3 linked regions of the Homo sapiens genome follow. The protein of the gene in region 2 interacts with the protein of the main gene of each other region in a biochemical or structural test. Each region holds a gene or a part of one and is shown on either strand. Other genes may lie near its edges. The genes, in order: ST13, BAG1 and BCL2.

Region 1 (7,110 bases), on a different chromosome or scaffold from region 2:
AGAAACTGGTAGAAAGTAAGACTAAAGAGGCATTTTATAAAAAGTAAAAGATCTTCAATTTAGCACTCAAACAACTGCCAGTAGAATGTAAGACCTCTAATGATATCAAAGATAATTTGATTCAGGCCAGGCGTGGTGGCTCACACCTGTAATCCCAGAACTCTGGGAGGCCAAGACGGGCAGATCACCCGAGGTCAGGAGTTTGAGACCAGCCTGGCCAACATGGTGAAACTCTGTCTCTCCTGAAAATACAAAAAAATTAGCCAGGCATGGTGGCATACGCCTGTAGTCCCAGCTACTCAGGAGGCTGAGGCAGGAGACTCGCTTGAACCCAGGAGGGAGAGGTTGCAGTGAGCCGAAACTGTGCCACCACACTCCAGCCTGGGTGGCAGAGCGAAACTCAAGTCTTCCAAAAAAACCCCAAAAAAACAACAAAAAAAAACTGATTCAAAATTTAAAACATTTCAAGTACTTTTCTTCAGGTTCTGTGATATAAGAGACTTCCAAATTCATGAAGAAATTTAGTCAATTTGTGGCCAAAAAACCAACCAAACTCATAGCACAGATAACTACTCTTCTAAATATGAACCAGTTTTATCAACATGGTTGTAAGAACTAAACAAATACTATTTTTTGGCACTCAATTCAGTTATGGGAAAACTTTTGGCTGGGCATGGTGGCTCACATCTGTAATCCCAAACACTTTGGAGGCCAAGGCAGGTGGATCACCTGAGATCAGGAGTTCAAGACCAGCCTGACCAACATGGCAACATGGCAAAACCCTGTCTCTACAAAAAAAAAAAAATACAAAAATTAGCCGTGCCTGGTGGCACACGCCTGTAGTCCCAGCTACTAGGGAGGCTGAGGCATGAGAATTGATTGAACCTGGGAGGTGGAGGCTGCAGTGAGCTGAGATCACACTGCTGCACTCCAGCCTGGGCGACACAGTGAGACTCCGTCTCAAAAAAAGAAAAAAAAAAAAAAAAAGAAAACTTTTTAAGTATGCTTAGAACAACTTTAATATGTAACCCAACTTTTTCTAATACAAACATTATGAAGTCTGATTTATTATCAATGAAAATGTAAAACCTGAATTGAGGGGTGCCACATGTGTAAAATACCCTTTGGAGTTTGAATGCTATTAAAAAAAGAAGCAAAATAAATTATTAACAAATATTGAGGCCAGGTGCAGTGGCTCACGCCTGTAATCTCAGCACTTTGGGAGGCCAAGGTGGGTGGATCACGAGGTCAGGAGTTCGAGGCCAGCCTTGCCAACATGGTGAAAGCCCGTCTTTACTAAAATTATAAAAATTAGCCGAGTGTGGTGGCAGGTTCCTCTAATCCCAGTTACTCGGGAGGCTCAGGCAGGAGAATGGCTTAAACCTGGGAGGTGGAGGTTGCAGTGAGCCGAGATTGTGCCAGTGCACTCCAGTCTGGGTGACAAGAGCACGACTCCATCTCAAAAAGAACAAAAAAACAAAAAAAAATATTGATTACACATGTCAATATTTCAACCAATATGCCATTAATATCTGAATTTATTTCATGTTTCCTTTTACTTTCTAAAATGTGACTACTAGAACATTCTAAGTTTCATATGTGCCATTATATTTCTATTACACAGTGCTGATTTAAGTCACTTTAATAAAAATCAACAAAGTATCACATCATAGGTTTTCAAATACAAACTAACTACCGTCTCCTCACCTAGATCACTTTCCTCACTTGATGGTTCGTCTGCCTTTAAGTCTTCCTCCACCTTCTTACTATCAGGTTTTTCTTCCTAGCAAAGGGAAGACAAACAGTACTATCAGTATTTAATAACATACCGAATATTTATACTAATTTCTACAAATCTATGTATAAACTGTCAAATATGGCCAGGCATGGCGGCTCATGCCTGGAATTCCAGCACTTTGGGAGGCTGGGGTGGGTGGATCATTTGAGGTTAGGAGTTCAAGACTAGCCTGGCCAACACGGTGAAACCATCTCTACTAAAAATACAAATTAGCCGGACGTGGTGGTGCCCGCTTGTAATCCCAGCCACTTGGGAGGCTGAGGCAGGACAATCACTTGAACCTGGGAGGCGGAGGTGGCAGTGAGCTGAGATCATGCCACTGCACTCCAGCCTGGGCGACAGAGCAAGACTGTGTCTCAAAAATAAAAAAACAACTGTTCAAAATAAAGTTTGAACATTGACAATAAACAGTTTAGAGATTATAAATAGCCTCATGTCCACTCACATTATATTTTATTGCCAAATTTAGTAAAAATCTTTACAAGGGTTTTTGAGTTTTGGAACTGCAAATAAGAACCTGTGGAATTACAATAATAAACAATGAAAATTCAAAGAATTTAAAAGTGCACGACATATAGAAAGCAACACTTTCTTCCCATCCTATAAATAACCAGTGTGGTTTCTTGTATATCCCATTGCAGGATAGTCTCTCTATATATGAAACAACTCTATCCTTTGCCTTTTGCATTTAACAACGCTGTGTATCTTGTAAATTATATACCATTATCAGCCTACCTTCATCTATTCACTCAACCATATATTGTTAACCATTTTTAGGTTGCTTCCCTGTTACTTAAAAAATTAGAACCAAGGCAGGGCGCAGTGGCTCATGCCTGTAATTCCAGCACTTTGGGAGTCCGAGGTGGGTGGATCACGAGGTCAGGAGATTGAGACCATCCTGGCTAACATGGTGAAACCCCTTCTCCACTAAAAACACAAAAAAATTAGCCGGACGTGGTGGTGGGCACCTGTAGTCCCAGCTACTCAGGAAGCTGAGGCAGGAGAAGGGCGTGAACCTGGGAGGCAGAGCTTGCAATGAGCCAAGAGATCGCACCACTGCACTCCAGCCTGGGCAACAGAGTGAGACTCTGTCTCAAAAAAAAAAAAAAAAAAAAAAAAATTAGAACCAAAAACCTACCTTGTCACAAAATATTTGTTGAGTCCCTATAAAATGTGCAAAGTCTAGGTATTCTAGAATATATTGAAAAGAAAAGACAAGCCATAATTCTAGTTTAGAATGTTTTTCTTACAAAAAATTTTCAGCTGACACATAGGTTAAATATAATTTTGCCTTCATACACATTTGCCAAATAGCAAAATATCTAGGGCTCAGAAAATACCACTCTGATAAATGGTCCTTTTAAAAAAAAGGTAACTACTTTTTGGGCTTTTGCTTACCTTTTCGCATTCTCCTTCTTAATAGACATAACTTCCACTTTAAGATCCAAATAGATAACAATGTTTAAGTTTCTAAATAATAAAACAGCTATTTTCTTGTCGATTTAAGACAGCTAATCAGAAAATTTGCAAAAAAAAAAAAAGCCTTTTAGATATGAAGGCAGAAGAGAGAAATAAAAAATTATGAAGAAAGCATTCTGGGCCAGGCATGGTGGCTCACGCCTTAGTCCCAGCACCTTGGGAGGCTGAGAGATCAGTTGAGGTCAGGAGTTCGAGACCCACCTGGCCAACATGGCGAAACCCCATTTCTACTAAAAATAGAAAAATTAGCCAGGCATGGTGGGATGCACCTGTAATCCCAGATACTCGGGAGACTGAAACAGGAGAATCGCTTGAAGCCAGTAGGCTGAGGTTGCAGTGAGCCGAGATTGTACCAGTGCACTCAGACCTGGGTGACACAGTGAGACTTTGTCTCAGGAAAGAAAAAACAAACAAATAAAAGAAAACATTCTTAAACATGTATGTTCCCCTTCATCTGTCTCTCAACTTCAGCTACTGGTAACCTTCTCCTAATCTTACACGTCCTTTAAGCAAATATGCTAACCCAACACCATGATTCACACTCACAAATATCACTCAGGTAGTAGAGCAAAAAAATTAAATTACTGACCTGGGATACTTCATTTACTCTGCAAATAATAAATAAAGTACCTACAATGCATATGACACACTGTAAGGCAATGATGAAGACTACGGATGCACACCATCACGGAGCTTACCACTTACAGGCCATACATGTAACTTTTATTGTCATGTATTCTAAAACAGTGAACATCCAACCCTAAATTCTCAGTTCTAAATCAGAATCCAGAGAATTCGGGTCTACAAAGTTATAAAGATAAAGAGGTCTTAAAAGGTCTTATTTCCAAGTGATCTTGGGGAAATCAGGAGTGATAACTGGAGAGCAGCAGTTTAAAAACAACCCCTAAGAAATCTTATAGTACTTTATCACAAAACATACAAATGAAATTAAAACTTACCTTGGTATTTTCTTCTGATTTAGCTTTCTGAGTAGCAGGTGGTACTTTACCACCCATGCTTGAAGAAGATGAGAAAAAAGATATTTGTTTAGAAAATTAAAATTCACTGTCACGCAACGTATTTACACCTAAAAAATAACGTTAGACATTTAGATGACTACCTTTTCAAAATTTAAAAGTAAACTCTCAATTAATCTGAATGCTGTGGTATTATTATGGTTAAATTTTTTCCAGCTTAAAATTTATTTTAAGGCTACTGGCTAATGAACCCCTTTCTTTGCCTCAATGAGTCAAATAAACATAATGTATAGCTTCTCTGTGCCTCTTCCCAGAGGAAAAGAGGCAGATATGTCAACATGCAATGACAAAATCATTTGCACAAGCTGTTAACTTAGAATTCAACTCAGTAGGTATATCTGAATCCTAAATTTGAAACTTGAAATAAGAGTTCAATTAAATTCAAATATGCAGTTTATGAAGTAACTATACCGTCATGATATAATTCAAAATGTTTGTGTCCTGTGACTGAGACCTATGAGAATTTTTCTTGCTTATATTTGCATGCCCATCACATTATAGATTTTCTCCTTATACACCCCTCCCAACCTCATCCATTAATACTTCCTCCTGACCCTACAAACTCTTCTTTCCCAAATAGTTCAGGGCAACACAATTCATTATAAGCAAATAACTAGAAGAGAAAAATTACAAAGAATTAGCGTTACATGCTCCATTTGGTGCAGACCCTATAGTATATGGGCTACCTGCAACAATCCAGTGACTAAAATGGTTGATAGACTTAAGAGCACTCCACAACAGTTGGAAGCAACGTAGACATTATTAAAATTTGCCTTAAAAACAAACAACAAAAGCCATTAACTATGTAAAACAAGGGGATATATTAACTTTGAAAACAGAAAGGGTTCTTTTTTTTTTTTTTTGAGATGGAGTCTTGCTCTGTCACCCAGGCTGGAGTGCAGTGGCACAATCTTGGCTCACTGCAACCTCCACCTCCTGGGTTCAAGCGATTCTCCTGCCTCAGCCTCCCAAGTAGCTGGGACTACAGGGTGCATGCCATCACACCCAGCTGATTTTTTGTTTTAGTAGAGACAGGGTTTCACCATGTTAGCCAGAACGGTCTCGATCTCCTGACCTCGTAATCCGCCAGCCTTGGCCTCCCAAAGTGCTGGATTTACAGGCATGAACCACTGCGCCCGGCCTGATTCTTTGTAACTAGAGTTGTCATATCCACACTTACATTCATTTCAGTTGGGTGGAATTTGTGGTCATAAGGGTATGTGCAGGCTGAATTTAAATGGGCATCAGTTTTCTGAAGTTCTTTTATCAATTTACACTTTTATCAGCAATGTATGAGAATTCCAATTGTTTCACGCCTTGGCCAATGCTTAGCTATTGTCCATCTTAAAGATTTTTTAGCCATTCTGATAGGTGCCTACTGGCATCTCATTGCAGTTGAGTCCCTTTTCATATATTTACTGGTCATTTAAAAAGACTTTTTTGTACAGTTCAACTCTCATCCAGCTTTCTAATAGATTGTCCTTCTTTATTTGAAGGTGTTGTCTGTATTCTGCATATGAACCCTTTGTCAGCTTTATGTGTTGCAAATATTTTCTCCCACCCTGTAGGTTGCCTTTTCACTCCCTTAGTATCATCTGAGAATCCCAATATGAAGCAAAAGTATAAATGCAAAGTAGCAGATGGAATGAAAAGAAACAGAATTTGGAATTTCTTATAAGCACCATTCAAACGAAGAAAATGTGCCTACTTTTTCCATTATGTTTAATATGATAGAAGAAAATGTTACACAGTACCCTTAATATGGAATAGCTCCCATGTCAAACATAAAGATTATATGATCCAAAACATCCTAATCTGCAATTCAGCAAAGTAAAATGATTTAATGATAAGGAACAGGCATATAGACACCACAAAATTCTTTTCTATGGAAACACTACTTTGCAAAAGAGCACAGTAATCACCAGTCCTTTGTAGTTAAATTTTAATGAAGACACAGGGTTTCTTACACTGTGTTCTTCCTAAGTTTCAAAATGCAGCGTCAGGAATGTATTTAGAGTGACATCCAGACATAGTATAACTTACAGTACACTAACTTTGGGAAGTGATATTCCTGCCAAGAAATGTATTAAGCTAAATCCAATCCTAAGGGAAGGCCAGACAAACCCAAATTGAAAGTCTATAAAATAACTTGCCAATAACATTCAAACTGTTAAGATCATGAAAGTCAAGGAAAGACTGAGGAACTGTTTCAGAATGGAGACTACGTGACATGGCAACTAAATGCAACACATAAATCTGAGGATTAGATAGCATAAATGCATCAGCATTAGTTTCCTAAGTTTAGTATTTGCATTGTAAAGACTTTGTAGGAAGTACACACTCACTGGTGTTGGGGTATAATGTTGGCAGCTTACTCTCAACTAGTTCAGAAAAAATTCCTTTGTACCATACCTGCAATTTTTCTGAGCTAGAAATTGTTGCAAAAAAAATAAAAACTTTAAAAAAAAAAGAGGATTTACTCATAAGCTAGATTTAGTTTCTCCCATCCCAAATTCTAGTTAACTAATGGAAGAAAACACCAACTCATAGGTACGAAATTTCAATTAATGCTTCCAAGGCTTAGAACAAGCTACTTTCTGGCCAAAAACTGCCACTTAGACTTTGGCACTACAGGCTTTTTTATGTTACACAATCAAGTAGGACCAGTGTAGAGACTTTTCTCACATAGGACCACATAAAACTTCATTCACATTTCTCTTAATTTGATAACCTTCTAATCTGCTTTGTGCTATGGTTATTTGTACACATGTACAAAAAATTGGTTGCTACACTCTA
Region 2 (7,121 bases):
TTTTTCATGCATTCCTCTATTTTGAAACATGAATTTCTATTGTCTTTATAATTCAGAAATAAAATATTTTTAAAAATTAAAGACAATATGTTACACTATGAAATATAAATAAAAATGCCTCCTATTACTAAATTCTTTATAATGACTGACACCCAATGGGGTAAGTCTTTCCCCAGTGGATACCAGAATGATAGATTCTCAGGGGGGTGGGAAGACAGAGGGCAGGGGCCAGGAGGGTGTGGGTCCTGGCAGAAATGAGCATCATGCATCCACTGAGCCCGCCACATCCAGGCCTCAGGTAAGTTTGCTCAAAACCTCCTTTGAGTCAGAACAATGGGAGGCACTGGAAACACAGCAGTATCTCCACCCTCACGGAGGCTGTTATTTTAACAGAGAAATCAGATGTTAAGCAACTAAGAAAATGATTATTTAATAGTAATTTCATAGAAGTGATGCAAAAATAGCAGGGAGTACCATGGTAACATATAATGGGAAGATGATCTAACCTAGCGAGGGAAGACTGCCCATGAGCTTCATCGAAAATGGTGAGATTTCTGCCATCATCATAAGACTTCAAATCTGACACCTGTCCAGGTGTTTGAGAGTGTCCAATACCTAGCAGGTCCTCAATAAATATCTGTTGAAGAACTGAATGAATAAACAAATAAATAAAAATTGTCCCAGTTTGAAAACAGAGTGACTATTAGGAAAAGTTCAGCAGTTTTAAAACTGTCCTTTGGCCATAAGGAAAAGCCGGAAAAGAAATGCTTACCCTTGGCCAGGTGCAGTGGCTCACACCTGTAATCCCAGCACTTTGGGAGGCCGAGGCGGGTGGATCACCTGAGATCAGGAGTTCGAGACCAGCCTGGCCAACATGGTGAAACCCTGTCTCTACTAAAAATACAAAAATTAGCCGGGCATGGTGGTATGCACCTGTAATCCCAGCTACTTGAGAGGCTGAGGCAGGAGAATCACTTGAATCCGGGAGGCGGAGGTTGCAGTGAGCCTAGATCGTGCCATTGCACTCCAGCCTGGGCGACAAGAGTGAAACTTCGTCTCAAAAAAAAAAAAAGAAAAAGAAAGAAAGAAAAAGAAATGCTTACCCTTAAATATGAGTTTCTGAAAAGACTGTGGAACCCCTATGACCTCTTCAACAACCTGGGCCAGGTCTTGGACAACTGGTTCACTGCTGCCCTGCTGGGAGGTAACATGAAGGTCGTGCTTCTCATTGCCTGGGGAGAAAGAAAAGCATTTGACGAATATGATTCTTTCACATACACCAATATAGGATGACACTTTATCACATTTATTTACCCAGCCTTCAAGGCCCAGCTCATATGCCACCTACTCCACAGAGCCTGCCCCCATGCCACCCAGCTTTCCTCTGGTGACCTCCTCAAGTATCTCTGTTTCCTCTATTATAATAACTAACAATATGAATGATATCTGCTAACATTTTAAGCATTTCATGCATAATCTAATTTAATCCTCAGATAAACCCCACGAAGTAGATCTACCTATTACTTCTTATTTCACAGATGAGCAAACTGTGACTTCAGGCAAGTTAAGGACTGCCTATGGAGACTCAACTGTTGGAATCAGAAGTTGATATCAGATCTAGCTGATTCCCAAGCCCACCTTTTTCATCACAAGCCATCTGCTTCCTGTGGCTTGACTGCCCTGTACCCTGTATTGTATTGGTCTCGTCTCGCTTGCTGTAATGGGCAAGTGACTGTTTTCCTCCAAGTCTCTCCCACTGAACACACTTGAGTGCATCCATGATTTGTGCTAAGTAAACAGACAAATGCATACGAACAGCAGAGCCTTTCTTTCTGAAGAAGAGACGCCAATTCTTTTCCAGGGATGCGGACAGCAAGGAGGGAGCCTGTGTACAGTACATTACACCAAGGTTTGGTTCCCCCAACAGCTCCGTGAGGTCAGCAGGAGCCAGGGTTACCAAATCTACTTCACAGAGGAGAAACCGGATTCTTAGAAGAAGCCGTCCATCCCAAGGTCACTCAAAACCGCAGGATCTAGAATCCAGGTCTCCAGATTCCCAGACCCTTGGGCCTCCCCTAGCTGGTTCTAGAGAAACCTCATGGACTCAGCTCTCCGGTGTACTGACTTCATTTGGTGGTGTGTCAACTCCAACAGTAGGCAGACCCAAAGGGTGCCCAGAGTACAACGCTTGGACCCACGGCCAACTCAAGCGGCGCACACGGAGAAGGCACTCAGCACACGAGGAGCACCCCGGCATGCACGAAGTTCTGACTTATCACACACGGAGCAGTCGTAGACCACATGGCCCAATATATGCCTGACACAAAGGGCACAATAACTGCGCGGGCACACAAACACAACCAGGCCCACGACGTAAAGCACGGAGAAGCTCAAACACCCAGGATCGCACAAATGACCAGAGACAAAATACACCGGCCACATGGAAAAGTGTACAGACACAAGCCCGGGACAAAAGACAGTTCCACGGACACAACCAATAACCCACGCTTCCGGACGCCAGGACAAGCGCAAGGTCACACGCTTCTGGAGGACACGTGACTAAACCCACAGACCCCGCCGGGCTTTCGGGACCTGCATGGAGCCCACCTGGCGCCCGACACTCACTGTGGGTGACAGTCACGGTGAGCCCAGCTGCCGCCATTTCCTCCCTGGTCACCTCCTCGCTCCGGGTCGACTCCTCGTCCCGGGTCACCTCCTGGCTCCGATTCATCTCTTCGCCCTGGGTCGCCTCCTCACTCTGGGTCGCCTCTTCACTCCAGGTCGCTTCCTCACTCAGGGTCAACTCCTCGCTCCGGGTCAACTCCTCGCTCCGGGTCGAGCGGCGCCGGGTTTTCTTCTTCATCCGCGGCCTGCGAGCGCCGGCGGCGGCGCCCCTGGTGGGTCGGTCATGCCCGCTGGCAGTACTCCGGGCAGGTGGACGCCCAGAGGGAGGCGGACCACGCTGGGCCGGGGGCTCCGACTGGCGCGGCTCCCGGCCTGGCCGAAGGGCGCGCAGCCGGGAACCCAGCCGCTCCCGGTCGCCTCGCGGTCTCCGCGCCCCCCCGCGCTGAGCCAGGCCCGCACTTGTTGACCGCCCAGCGATGGAAGCTGAGCGCGGCGTCTCACAACCCCGCCCGACTACTTCCCAGCCCCGCCCCGGCCTGCCGGCCCCGCCCTCGCCCTATGCCGCGTTAGTTGCCTCCAGGCCCCACCCACTCAACTGAGGCCCCGCCTTGCTACAGTAAAACCCCTCCCACTCCTTCTACCAACACCCCGCCCCCTGCAGGCTCTCTCCGAGAGCACCAAGTCCTTTTGCTCTCCATCCCCGGAAGACCCGGCTGAAAATCCGGAAAAAGAATCGGGAAACGCCAGGAGGCATATTGCGCTTGCGCACGGAGGGGCCGGAAGTCGAGGCGGGAGTGACTCTGCTTCCGTTTCTGGTTTTGCTCTAGTGTTTGGGTTTCTTCGCGGCTGCTCAAGATGAACCGACTCTTCGGGAAAGCGAAACCCAAGGCTCCGCCGCCCAGCCTGACTGACTGCATTGGCACGGTGGGCATTTGATCATGCATAAGTAGGCTCAGGACCTCTGACACACCCGACCCCGCCCACCCCCAGCCCCGGGCCCATATTCTTCCACTTCATTTCGGGTCCTGGGCCCCTTACACGTCGTCCCTCTCTATCTCACCTTCTCCCCTTCATCCCTGTTACCCAAGTCATTCCTAACGCCACAAACCAGGGAACCCCTAACCCCATCACTGCCTTGCCCTGCCAGCACCCAACCCGTTTTGATGCCCATTGCCCGTCCACTCGCTCTCGCCTTGATCCTCTCACCTCACCCAGCCCTAGGCCCATACACCCTTCCCACCTCATCCTGCCTGATCCCTTACCCTTCTTCCATCTGTCATCCCCAGTCCACATCAGGACTCAGCTTGATATCCTAGGTCAACATATCTGTGCCTTCGTCCTGGATCTCAGTAACACAAAACTCAGAACCCTAGCCCCTCAGATTAAGCCACCATCCCCGATTTAGGGAATGGCATTAGATCTACAATCAGCTGGTTTCACTTGGCACTGGCCCATTTCATGTGCCTCTTGGAGGAACTCTCAGCCTGGCTAGTCTCTGATTCTAGGGAAATTCCAACTCAACTCAGTGATTCTCAAATTATTTTCTGCCCCAACCCACTTGAAGGCTACCTGGTATATCAGAATCGGGGCAGTGTGGCGGGGGGTAAGAGAATAATTTATAAAGCCCAGGGTTTCTGGTTGGGAATACCCTTCTTTGTGAACCACTGTTTTTCACCCTTCCCCTTAAGCTCCTCTTTTCTTCCTCTGTATTCCTTCCTCTCTACCTGCCCCTTCTGGAATAAGTGTATTGCAGTAACTACCAGTGCATTTGATATTTTCCCCTAAGGTGGACAGTAGAGCAGAATCCATTGACAAGAAGATTTCTCGATTGGATGCTGAGCTAGTGAAGTATAAGGATCAGATCAAGAAGATGAGAGAGGGTCCTGCAAAGGTAAGGTGGGCAGCAACTGCTGCACAAGGTGCTGGCAGAGCCTAGTTTTAGCACCTATAGAAATAGGGCCTAGTTCGGCTGGGCGCAGTGGCTCATGCATGTAATCCCAGCACTTTGGGAGGCTGAGGCGGGTGGATCACGAGGTCAGGCATTTGAGACTAGCCTGGCCAACATAGCGAAACCCTGTCTCTACTGAAAATACAAAAACTTAGCTGGGCATGGTGGCAGGCGCCTGTAATCCCAGCTACTCAGGAGGCTGAGGCAGGAGAATCGCTTGAACCTGGGAGGCGGAGGTTGCAGTGAGCAGAGACCACACCATAGCACTCTAGCCCAAGTGACAGTGTGAGACTCCGTCTCAAAAAATAAGTGAAATAGGACCTAGTGCAGGGGCTGTGAGCATCCCTACAGAAGAGATGCTTACAGTCTGGTAAGGAGAAAACATGTGAGGGTGTATCCTTTAGGGAGGAGAGTTTGCAATCAAATATGGAAGGGAGGCTGGGGATTGATCTGGTGGAAAGAGATGCTGGTCACACGTCTAAAAGCATGTACATGAGAATTAGCATATTATACTGAGAAGGTGGTAATCTGGAGAGGAAGACTAGGCTGTGCTCAAGATCAATGACTTGCTAAGCTGGTCAGGTTAGGTTGGTATATTAGACTGCTTAAGGAGTGGCCTGCTGGGAAAAACTGAACTAGGCATCTGGGACCAGTGTTCTAATACACTGTCACTGCCTTCTAGTTGTGACCTTGATAAAGTCACTTATTTTCCACTCCTGTTAGGTAGAAACATAAAATACTGTGTTTAAGCACATGGACTGTGGATATAGAACTACCTTGTTTTTTCCAGATCCATAACTTATTAACCATGTGAGCCTGGGTATCACTGAACCTCTCTTTCCCCATCTGTAAAACAGAGATAATACCCACCTTACAGTATGAGGATTAAATGAGGTAATTGATGTGACCTGTGTACCACTATGTCTAGGATAAAGTAGTACTCAGTAAATATGAGTTATGATCATCTGTGAAGTAATAATACCTGTTTTTCCTTCCTCACTGGAGAAGACAAATAAAATGATCTACAGAATTCTATAGAAAAGGAAGGCTTTTCCCAGCCATCTTAGTGGATGGTGTGGAATGAAGAGCAACCAGAGGTAGGAAAGCCCATTTAGATTTGAGACAATGAAAGCCCAAACCATGGTGGTAGGAAACCAAAGAATCAGTTTGAAAGTGAGTTCTGAAATCAGCTAACAGGATGACTGTGCATGAAGAAACAACAGAAAGAGGAAAGATAAGGTTGATAAAAAGGTTTTCAACCTAGAGAGGTGAGAGATTGGTGGGCCATTGTTACTTATTTCAAAGGTGAGATAAGGTTCAGGAGTTTGGAATTGTTGAGGTTAAGTTGATGGGCTGTACAAGTGAAGAATCTCCCTAAGGCAACTGGATATACAGACTCAGCACTTTTGGGGCTAGAGGCAGAGATAATATGCATTAGGAAAAGAGAAAGTAGTTGAGGACTCTGGGATGTGGGATGCAAAGACAGATAGGAGCAAAGGCTTAAAGACTGGACCTTAGAGATACCTGTTTTTGGGAGGGGAAGTACAGAATCCAGGAGCCATTATGCCTACTACTTTGAAGAAGAGAGGAAGTAGGCATGTGAGTTTGAGGCTATGGGAAATTTCTTTTACCGTATATGTGTTTTCCACCTTATTTTTATTAAATCTGTTTTTCTCTCCAGAATATGGTCAAGCAGAAAGCCTTGCGAGTTTTAAAGCAAAAGAGGATGTAAGTTACACACACAATTTCTACCTCTAGCAGGTTTAACTAAAAGAGAAATGGTCTTCCATTCCTTCAGGTTTTCATACTATTTTCTAAGCACTCTTGATTTAATTACAAATTTTCATTGACGTGTAATTAAATACAGTTAGCTGGGTTGTTATCTGTTGTAACAACTTCCATCTAAATAGAACTTTTTGCCATGATGGAGATGCTCTATATCTGTGTGTTCAATACAGTAGCTATTAGCAACATGTGGCTATTGAGCACTTGAAATGTGGCTAGTGTGACTAAGGAAATGAAGTTTAAATTTTATTCAATTTAAATAATTTAAGTAGCCTTATATGGTTAGTGACTACTGTTTTGGACTGACCAGATCTGTAGGGTTTGGTTTTCCTATTATTTATTTTAGAGTGTACCTTTTTTGTTTTTGTTTGTGAAGTTAGGAATCCTAAATGTTTGTTCCCTCCCACCAGAATAAATTTAAAGATCCTTAATTTGTTTTAGGTGACTATGTCCCAATTTTGAGCAGAAGCTAACTAGTATCTTTGGTGCCTACCTCTGTAGACTGTTCAGCTGATGAGATCCTCTGCAGGGTTATAGAGGTCAGGTATAATTAGCTATCGAGGAGCCAGAAAGATTGTCAGTGTCTCTCTTCCTATATTAAAATGACTTTTTATAAGATACCAGATGCCATCTTCCTCCTTTTAGATTAGATCAAATTGGAAAAAGAAATTGTAATGCCTAGACTGGTGAGGGTGTGGTGAAATGATTTACCTTCTTAATTGGTGGCATTGCTAGTTTTAAGTAACCTTTTTTGTTATAAAAA
Region 3 (7,110 bases), on a different chromosome or scaffold from region 2:
CCGATGAGACTCTGCAGTCTGCAGGAACAAAATGGCGGCACCCATTGATTTAGTTTAGTTCAAATGTGCACATAGAGGCATTACCTCTCTCTAGAGTGTAAGCTCTTTGGGGACAGGGTGGCTTTTCTCCCTTAGAATTCCCTTCGATTGTATAACGTCTGCATGCATAGTCAGCTCAAAGACTGTGGAATGTAGCTGAATTTCGAATTTGCTTATAGCCAGCCAAGCCATATTAAATTTCCCCAGTATATAGAGAGCTGAGAACACACACTGAGCTCGGGGCCTGAACCTCTTATTGCAGGCATTGGTCTGAGGGGCAGAGCTCATGAGAGTTCTTCTGGGCCAGGGTCTAAGGAGGCCCTCACTTAACCGGGGGCCTGTTGCATGGTTCTAGGTCATGGCTGCTGCCTGGGAGCCCATGTCTCCCCACTACTAGACATCATCTCCCAGCATTTTTGTCTGTCAAATTATGGAGTCTGGATTTTTTTCAGATTAAGTAAGCACTTAGAATGTAACATTATTCTATGTAGTATATATTGAAATATATTTCATAAATAGTAATATACATGTTTGTATTGAATTAGAAAAGACAGCTAAGGAAAAAAATCAGAATAGCCTCTTAAATGCCATGTCCTCATGCCTACTTCTGCCTTCAACGATAATCACTGTTAACATCTTTGCGTTTTCCTTTATATTATTTTTTTCTGTTTGTAAACGCGCACATGTATATGTTAGGTTTTTACAGAAGTGGAATCGTGTTTTGCTGACCGTTTTGTCCTGCTTTACTCAATATGACCTTAGGAACACAATTTCTTGCCAATAACTATAGGGTATGACTTTTAATGCTGAACAGCACTCCATCATGTGGACGCGCTGTCAGTCATCTATTTTCAGACATTTGTTTCCAGGTTTATGCTATTATACATAATCTGTGCACTTTATTATTTTTCCAAAATAAATAACTGGAAGTGAAATTACTAACAAAAGCTTTTTAAAAGCCTTTTGATATGCATTACCAAATTCAAAAGGTCTCCATGTTTACCTTTACCTGGGCATAAGGGTTATTTTGGGACCCCCGCCCATATCCCCAACCGCATGCCATTCTTTTCAGCACTTAGAATTAACCTTCTCTTCCATTCTTGACAATCTGACCTTTTTTAAAAAAAATTCTCATTTTAGGTTTACGTGAAATTTCTCGAAGTGGACCAGGGGTGGTGGCTCATGCCTGTAATCCCAGCACTTTGGGAGGCCAAGGTGGGAGGATCACTTGAGGCCAGGAGTTTGAATCCAGCCTGGCCAACATGAAACCCTTTCTCTACTAAAAATACAAAAATTAGCCGGGCGTAGTAGAGGGTACCTGTAGTCCCAGTTACACGGGAGGCTGAGGCAGAAGAATTGCTTGAACCTGGGAGCCACTGCACTCCAGCCTGAGTGACAGTGGCTCCATCTCAAAAAAAAAAAAAAAAAAAAATTCTTGAAGGTTCTGAACGGAAAAGGAAAATGTTGGAGGATGGCTGCCTCCCAGGTGGGAGTGCTCCATGGCCCGGAGGGGTGAGGACACCTTTGCTGAGTTTAGGAGTCTTGACCCTGGTCTGTTCCCGTCCACACCTACCTGGCCTGGTTCCAAACCTGCAGCAAGGCTGCGGCTGGGAGTTTAGCCATCCTGTCCCCTTGGGCCAGCCCTGGGTGGAACTCAGATCCTCTGTGGCCTCTGAATTGGAAATTTATGGGGAAGCCACTGTGGACAGAGCCACCAGAGCTGAGGCCCTGCCCATCTCCTCCTCATAGGAGGAGCCGGTGCCAGCCTTTCCGTGTGAACCTGTGATCCGTGAAGTCGGGTAAGCCCTTGCCAGTCCTGACATGAGCAAGGGACACAGAGCTTCCTAAATATATAGACTGGGATTTTGTCCGAATCACATGACGACCCAGGTTTTCTTTTTCCCTCTTTGTTGCTTTTAATACATAAAATGAGCATGTGTTTATTTAAAACAGCTTTCAAACTCAAACAAATAATGACAGACTGTTCAAACAGACTTCGGAAATCGCCCCAATCAGGATGTTTGAAAAATCAGGAAGACTTTCTACGAAAGAAGCTTTCAGGTCATTTTAGTCCCGAAGCCGCAGGGTCTCCTTTGCACTTTGGAATTGTAGAAGGGCAAAGTTTAGAGGCCAGCTCCAACCTCCAGGGGGTTAAATGACTTGCCCTCTAGCCCTACACTCTAATAATGTGTAAAGAAGGACAGATAGGTAGGCATTGTATTATCACTTCCCATCTTTGACCAGAACACGGGATGTATACATTTTAATTCATAATTCCTATAGAAATTACGGACTATCCTCAGATCAGAAAGCTAAGAGAGGAAATTGCTTCTGCAAAACGGCAGGCTCAGCAGAACTTCTTGGGGGAAGGGCAGGTTGAGTAGGTGCGGAGCAGGTCTGCAAGAGGACAGACAAGAGCAAGGTGTTTGTTCTGCCACGAGCTCACTTTCTGTATCCAATTTACAAATGGCTTTGAGTGACCTACGTTAATCTTCACAATAATGAATTTTATGGCTATGGATGAAGTAAATGAGGCTCGGGGCTGGGTTATCTGCTGAAGGTTATAAACTAATAAAATATCAAAGCCAGGGTTCACCCACACTCCTCCTCCAAGTCCCATGCCCTTCTCAGCCCCCTGGGATGGCAACAGCATCTCTATGCTGAGGCTTTGGGCCAAGAGCTGCTAGTTTAGCTCATCTCACTCTAGAAATGACATTGTTCTACGTAATGCATATCAGAAATGGCCTGTTAGGTTCATGAGAAGCACTGTTATTTGTGTGGGGGTGAGGGTGGTGAGAGGGAATTATTCCAGCTCTGAGGAGGTGGGGATATTTGGGACAGCATTTCTTCTGCTCTCCAGCACTGTGTGCCAGACCAACTGGGAGAAAATGCCAGCTGGAGTATGTCCCTGCATCCTCCGGTTTCCCAGGATGGCTTCAGGTCCAGACAGGACAAATGATCAGGGGCTTAGTCTGGTTCAGATTTTGCCACACAAAACTCTGTTGATTACTAAAGGGATTCAGAGCCCGGCCACTGACCTTCTCAATGTCAAGCCAAATTGCAGACAACCTATTGCCAGTGCCCTGACAAATTTGGGGTGTCTTTTGGCTGGGCTATTGGGGGTTTCAGCCTACCCATCCCTCAGAGAGAGAAGCATGGATGGGAGGACTAGTTGACATTTGCAGCCGTGTCTGTGATGTCTTGGGTTGCTCCCTGGAAGAGGCAGAGTTCTGGCTTGTGGAGAAGTCCTGACTCCTTCCTGCCCCACTGATCCCTGCTTATATGGAGAGGGGTGTGCATCTTGGCAGACAATCATGATTGTGCCTTAGCTCTGTGCTAAGAGCACTAAACACACATTTTATGTACGTCTATTGCCTCGCTTTTCTAACACTGAAATTTAGAAATGTTTAACAATAGATATTTAAAAAGAAGAAGAAAGCCCTTGCGCCCTCTCCTGGTAAAAGTTAACCAAGGACCTCCAAAGATGCAGAAGGCCCACTGGGTTAGCAGTCGCTGGTCTGGGCTAGCTGATTGTGCTGATTTGACCAATGCTGTTGACACACAGGATGGGTCATCTGTTCTTCTATGGTCTGTGATTACAGAGCATCTTATAAACCAGAGTTTCTCAGCCTCGGCCCTGTTAGCATTGGGGGGCTGCCCTGTGCATTGTGGGATGTTGAACAGCATCCGCGGCCTCTGCCCACTAGATACCAGTAGCACCCTCACCCCAAATCATGACCACTAAAAATGCTTCCAAACATTGCCAAATGTCCCCTGGGGGACAGGATCACTCTCAGTGTGACCCTCGCCCTAAATTCTTGCCTGCCTTTTGTAAAAGGTGGCATTGGTTGGAGGGCAATCCATGAGAATGTGAGGATGGCTCAAGGCAAGCCCTTCATGATGTCTGGAAGCAATATTGATGACTGGTTAACTGAGGTCACTTCTAGGAGTTTGTTTCAAAAAAGCAACTGAACAAATAGACAAGAATTTATATACAAAAATATATCATGATATTGTTTATAATAGCAAAAGTTTTAAACACTATAAACATGAATTTTTTAAAGTATGGCACATTTTATATATCATGAAAATAATTGTATAAATCTATATTTAATAATGTGGAAAGTTACCCTAACAATGCTTTAAATCCTCATCAAGACTACCTCAGGATTCTCAGAGGCTGTTACATATAGAAGGAGTAATTTCAAACAGATTCATAAGCATTTGGGTAAAGCATTAAGCCAAAGACCAATGATTGTATTCAGAAAGCTTAAGTGAACAAACATTTACTACGCACCTATAGTGCACCACAACCATGCCCAGCATGAGGGAGACAAAGAGAATCCCTGGTCCCACTGCTACAGCCCTTGCCCCAGAGAAAGGGAACCCCTCTGTGCACTGTTGGAGCCCCTCCCAACAGCGATGTCCAGGGTCATGGTATGTTACTGTTTCCTGTAATAAAACTGTGTGCTTTGAGTCAGGGTTGTTGGGAATAATGTGAAACTATTCTTGTTTTCTTCTTCATCCTGAATAAATCAGAAGTAAAAAGAATTCATTTACTGATTTATATATTCAAATATTCATTCAGAAAGTTGTCCAAATACTCATTGGACCCAAATGTGAAACATAATCTCCCCAAAATCTAGGAAATGAGCAATTGGTGATTTGCTCAATCCAAGCCCATCCAGAGGGTAGACTTTGCTACAACACACTACAGACCCGACTTGAGATGGAGAGATAGGAATGGAAGGGAGACACTTTTTGTCTCTCAGGGACCTGCACATCCAGTGACACACCCCTGATCTCCTGCCTTGTGAGATCCACAATTTGAGTAAATGCAGAGTTGTGGTCGTCCAGTCTAGCCACCCCCAAGAGAAACCCCCTGACAGCTCCCTTTCCCCAGGAGAACCTTGACCTTAGAGGTTGGCACTGCACCAGTCAAGGCCGCCCTTGGCCCCTCCACTGACTGAGCCCTTGACTGACCAAATGCTCTCATAGAGCTGCCGTTAGCCACGCCAGGGCATCAGCAGAGAGAAGGGTGCTGGTTTCTATCTGGGTTCAAAGCCTGGCTCTGCCACTTGTTAAAAAGTCTCTTATTCCCTGCGATTCTCAGCTTTTTCATCTTCAGAACAGAAACAAATAAAATAACTTCATAAGATTGGTACAAAGAATTAGCTGGATGAGAAAGCGCATGCCTTTAATCCCAGAACTTTGGGAGGCTGAGGCAGGAGACTCACTTGAGCCCAGGAGTTCAAGACCAGCCTGGAAAGTATAGTAAGACCCTATCTCTACAAAAAATTTAAAAATTAGCCAAGCATGGTAATCCTAGGTACTCAGGAGGCGGAGGCAGGAGGATCACTCTTGAGTCCAACAGTTCGAGGCTGCAGTGGGTCATGATTGCACCACTGCACTGCAGCCTGGGCAACAGAGCAAGACTCTTGTCTCTAAAAAAAAAAAAAGAAAGAAAAAGTTTGGTACAAAGACTAAAATAATGCATGTCAGACATTTGATAAGATGTCAACACTCAATCGAGGAGTGTGACGGTCATCATCATTGCTAGATTTTATTACTTTTATGGATGGGCATGCTAGCTAAAATTGCAAAACCTCTAATATTTTCTAACTGCCTCTGCTGTTTTTCTCCTCGGCCCTTAGCACTCTCTCCTACACCATGTGATAATTTATATTGATTGCTGTCTATACTGTTCCACTCAATGGAAGCTTCGTGAAGTAGGAACTTTTAGTCTATTTTATGCACTGCTGTATCTCTAAGATGGCTGGCACGTAAAGAGGGTCTCAATAAATATGCCTTGAATTAATGAAAACAGTGGTTTCTGAATCATGGCCTCCAAAGAGCATTTGCCTTTTCCCCTCTCACCCTTCTGAAGGTGCCCAGGCTGCCCTGGCAGGATGCCTCTTTCTCTGTGGGGTGGCATTCTCTGCTCTCTCTCTAATACTCTTTCTTTTTCTTCCCTCCTCTCCCCCAACTGCAGGATGCCTTTGTGGAACTGTACGGCCCCAGCATGCGGCCTCTGTTTGATTTCTCCTGGCTGTCTCTGAAGACTCTGCTCAGTTTGGCCCTGGTGGGAGCTTGCATCACCCTGGGTGCCTATCTGGGCCACAAGTGAAGTCAACATGCCTGCCCCAAACAAATATGCAAAAGGTTCACTAAAGCAGTAGAAATAATATGCATTGTCAGTGATGTACCATGAAACAAAGCTGCAGGCTGTTTAAGAAAAAATAACACACATATAAACATCACACACACAGACAGACACACACACACACAACAATTAACAGTCTTCAGGCAAAACGTCGAATCAGCTATTTACTGCCAAAGGGAAATATCATTTATTTTTTACATTATTAAGAAAAAAAGATTTATTTATTTAAGACAGTCCCATCAAAACTCCTGTCTTTGGAAATCCGACCACTAATTGCCAAGCACCGCTTCGTGTGGCTCCACCTGGATGTTCTGTGCCTGTAAACATAGATTCGCTTTCCATGTTGTTGGCCGGATCACCATCTGAAGAGCAGACGGATGGAAAAAGGACCTGATCATTGGGGAAGCTGGCTTTCTGGCTGCTGGAGGCTGGGGAGAAGGTGTTCATTCACTTGCATTTCTTTGCCCTGGGGGCTGTGATATTAACAGAGGGAGGGTTCCTGTGGGGGGAAGTCCATGCCTCCCTGGCCTGAAGAAGAGACTCTTTGCATATGACTCACATGATGCATACCTGGTGGGAGGAAAAGAGTTGGGAACTTCAGATGGACCTAGTACCCACTGAGATTTCCACGCCGAAGGACAGCGATGGGAAAAATGCCCTTAAATCATAGGAAAGTATTTTTTTAAGCTACCAATTGTGCCGAGAAAAGCATTTTAGCAATTTATACAATATCATCCAGTACCTTAAGCCCTGATTGTGTATATTCATATATTTTGGATACGCACCCCCCAACTCCCAATACTGGCTCTGTCTGAGTAAGAAACAGAATCCTCTGGAACTTGAGGAAGTGAACATTTCGGTGACTTCCGCATCAGGAAGGCTAGAGTTACCCAGAGCATCAGGCCGCC

What was found.
Region 1: the proteins of BAG1 (region 2) and ST13 interact in a biophysical measurement, tested with the Homo sapiens proteins (one study listed by IntAct).
Region 3: the proteins of BAG1 (region 2) and BCL2 form a complex in vitro, tested with the Homo sapiens proteins (one study listed by BioGRID).

The regions. Positions count from the first base shown.
Region 1 is NC_000022.11:40,846,587-40,853,696, forward strand, and holds part of ST13 (hsc70-interacting protein), read right to left. Parts: intron 4,295-7,110; coding exon 4,237-4,294; intron 1,784-4,236; coding exon 1,708-1,783; intron 1-1,707. UniProt on the Homo sapiens protein: One HIP oligomer binds the ATPase domains of at least two HSC70 molecules dependent on activation of the HSC70 ATPase by HSP40. Stabilizes the ADP state of HSC70 that has a high affinity for substrate protein.
Region 2 is NC_000009.12:33,261,599-33,268,719, forward strand, and holds the start of BAG1 (BAG family molecular chaperone regulator 1), read right to left. Parts: upstream 3,111-7,121; 5' UTR 3,077-3,110; coding exon 2,626-3,076; intron 1,233-2,625; coding exon 1,104-1,232; intron 1-1,103. Other genes in the region: CHMP5 (charged multivesicular body protein 5), read left to right, coding at 3,481-3,549, 4,412-4,516, 6,255-6,301. UniProt on the Homo sapiens protein: Co-chaperone for HSP70 and HSC70 chaperone proteins. Acts as a nucleotide-exchange factor (NEF) promoting the release of ADP from the HSP70 and HSC70 proteins thereby triggering client/substrate protein release.
Region 3 is NC_000018.10:63,127,681-63,134,790, reverse strand, and holds part of BCL2 (apoptosis regulator Bcl-2), read left to right. Parts: intron 1-6,031; coding exon 6,032-6,166; 3' UTR 6,167-7,110. UniProt on the Homo sapiens protein: Suppresses apoptosis in a variety of cell systems including factor-dependent lymphohematopoietic and neural cells. Regulates cell death by controlling the mitochondrial membrane permeability. Appears to function in a feedback loop system with caspases.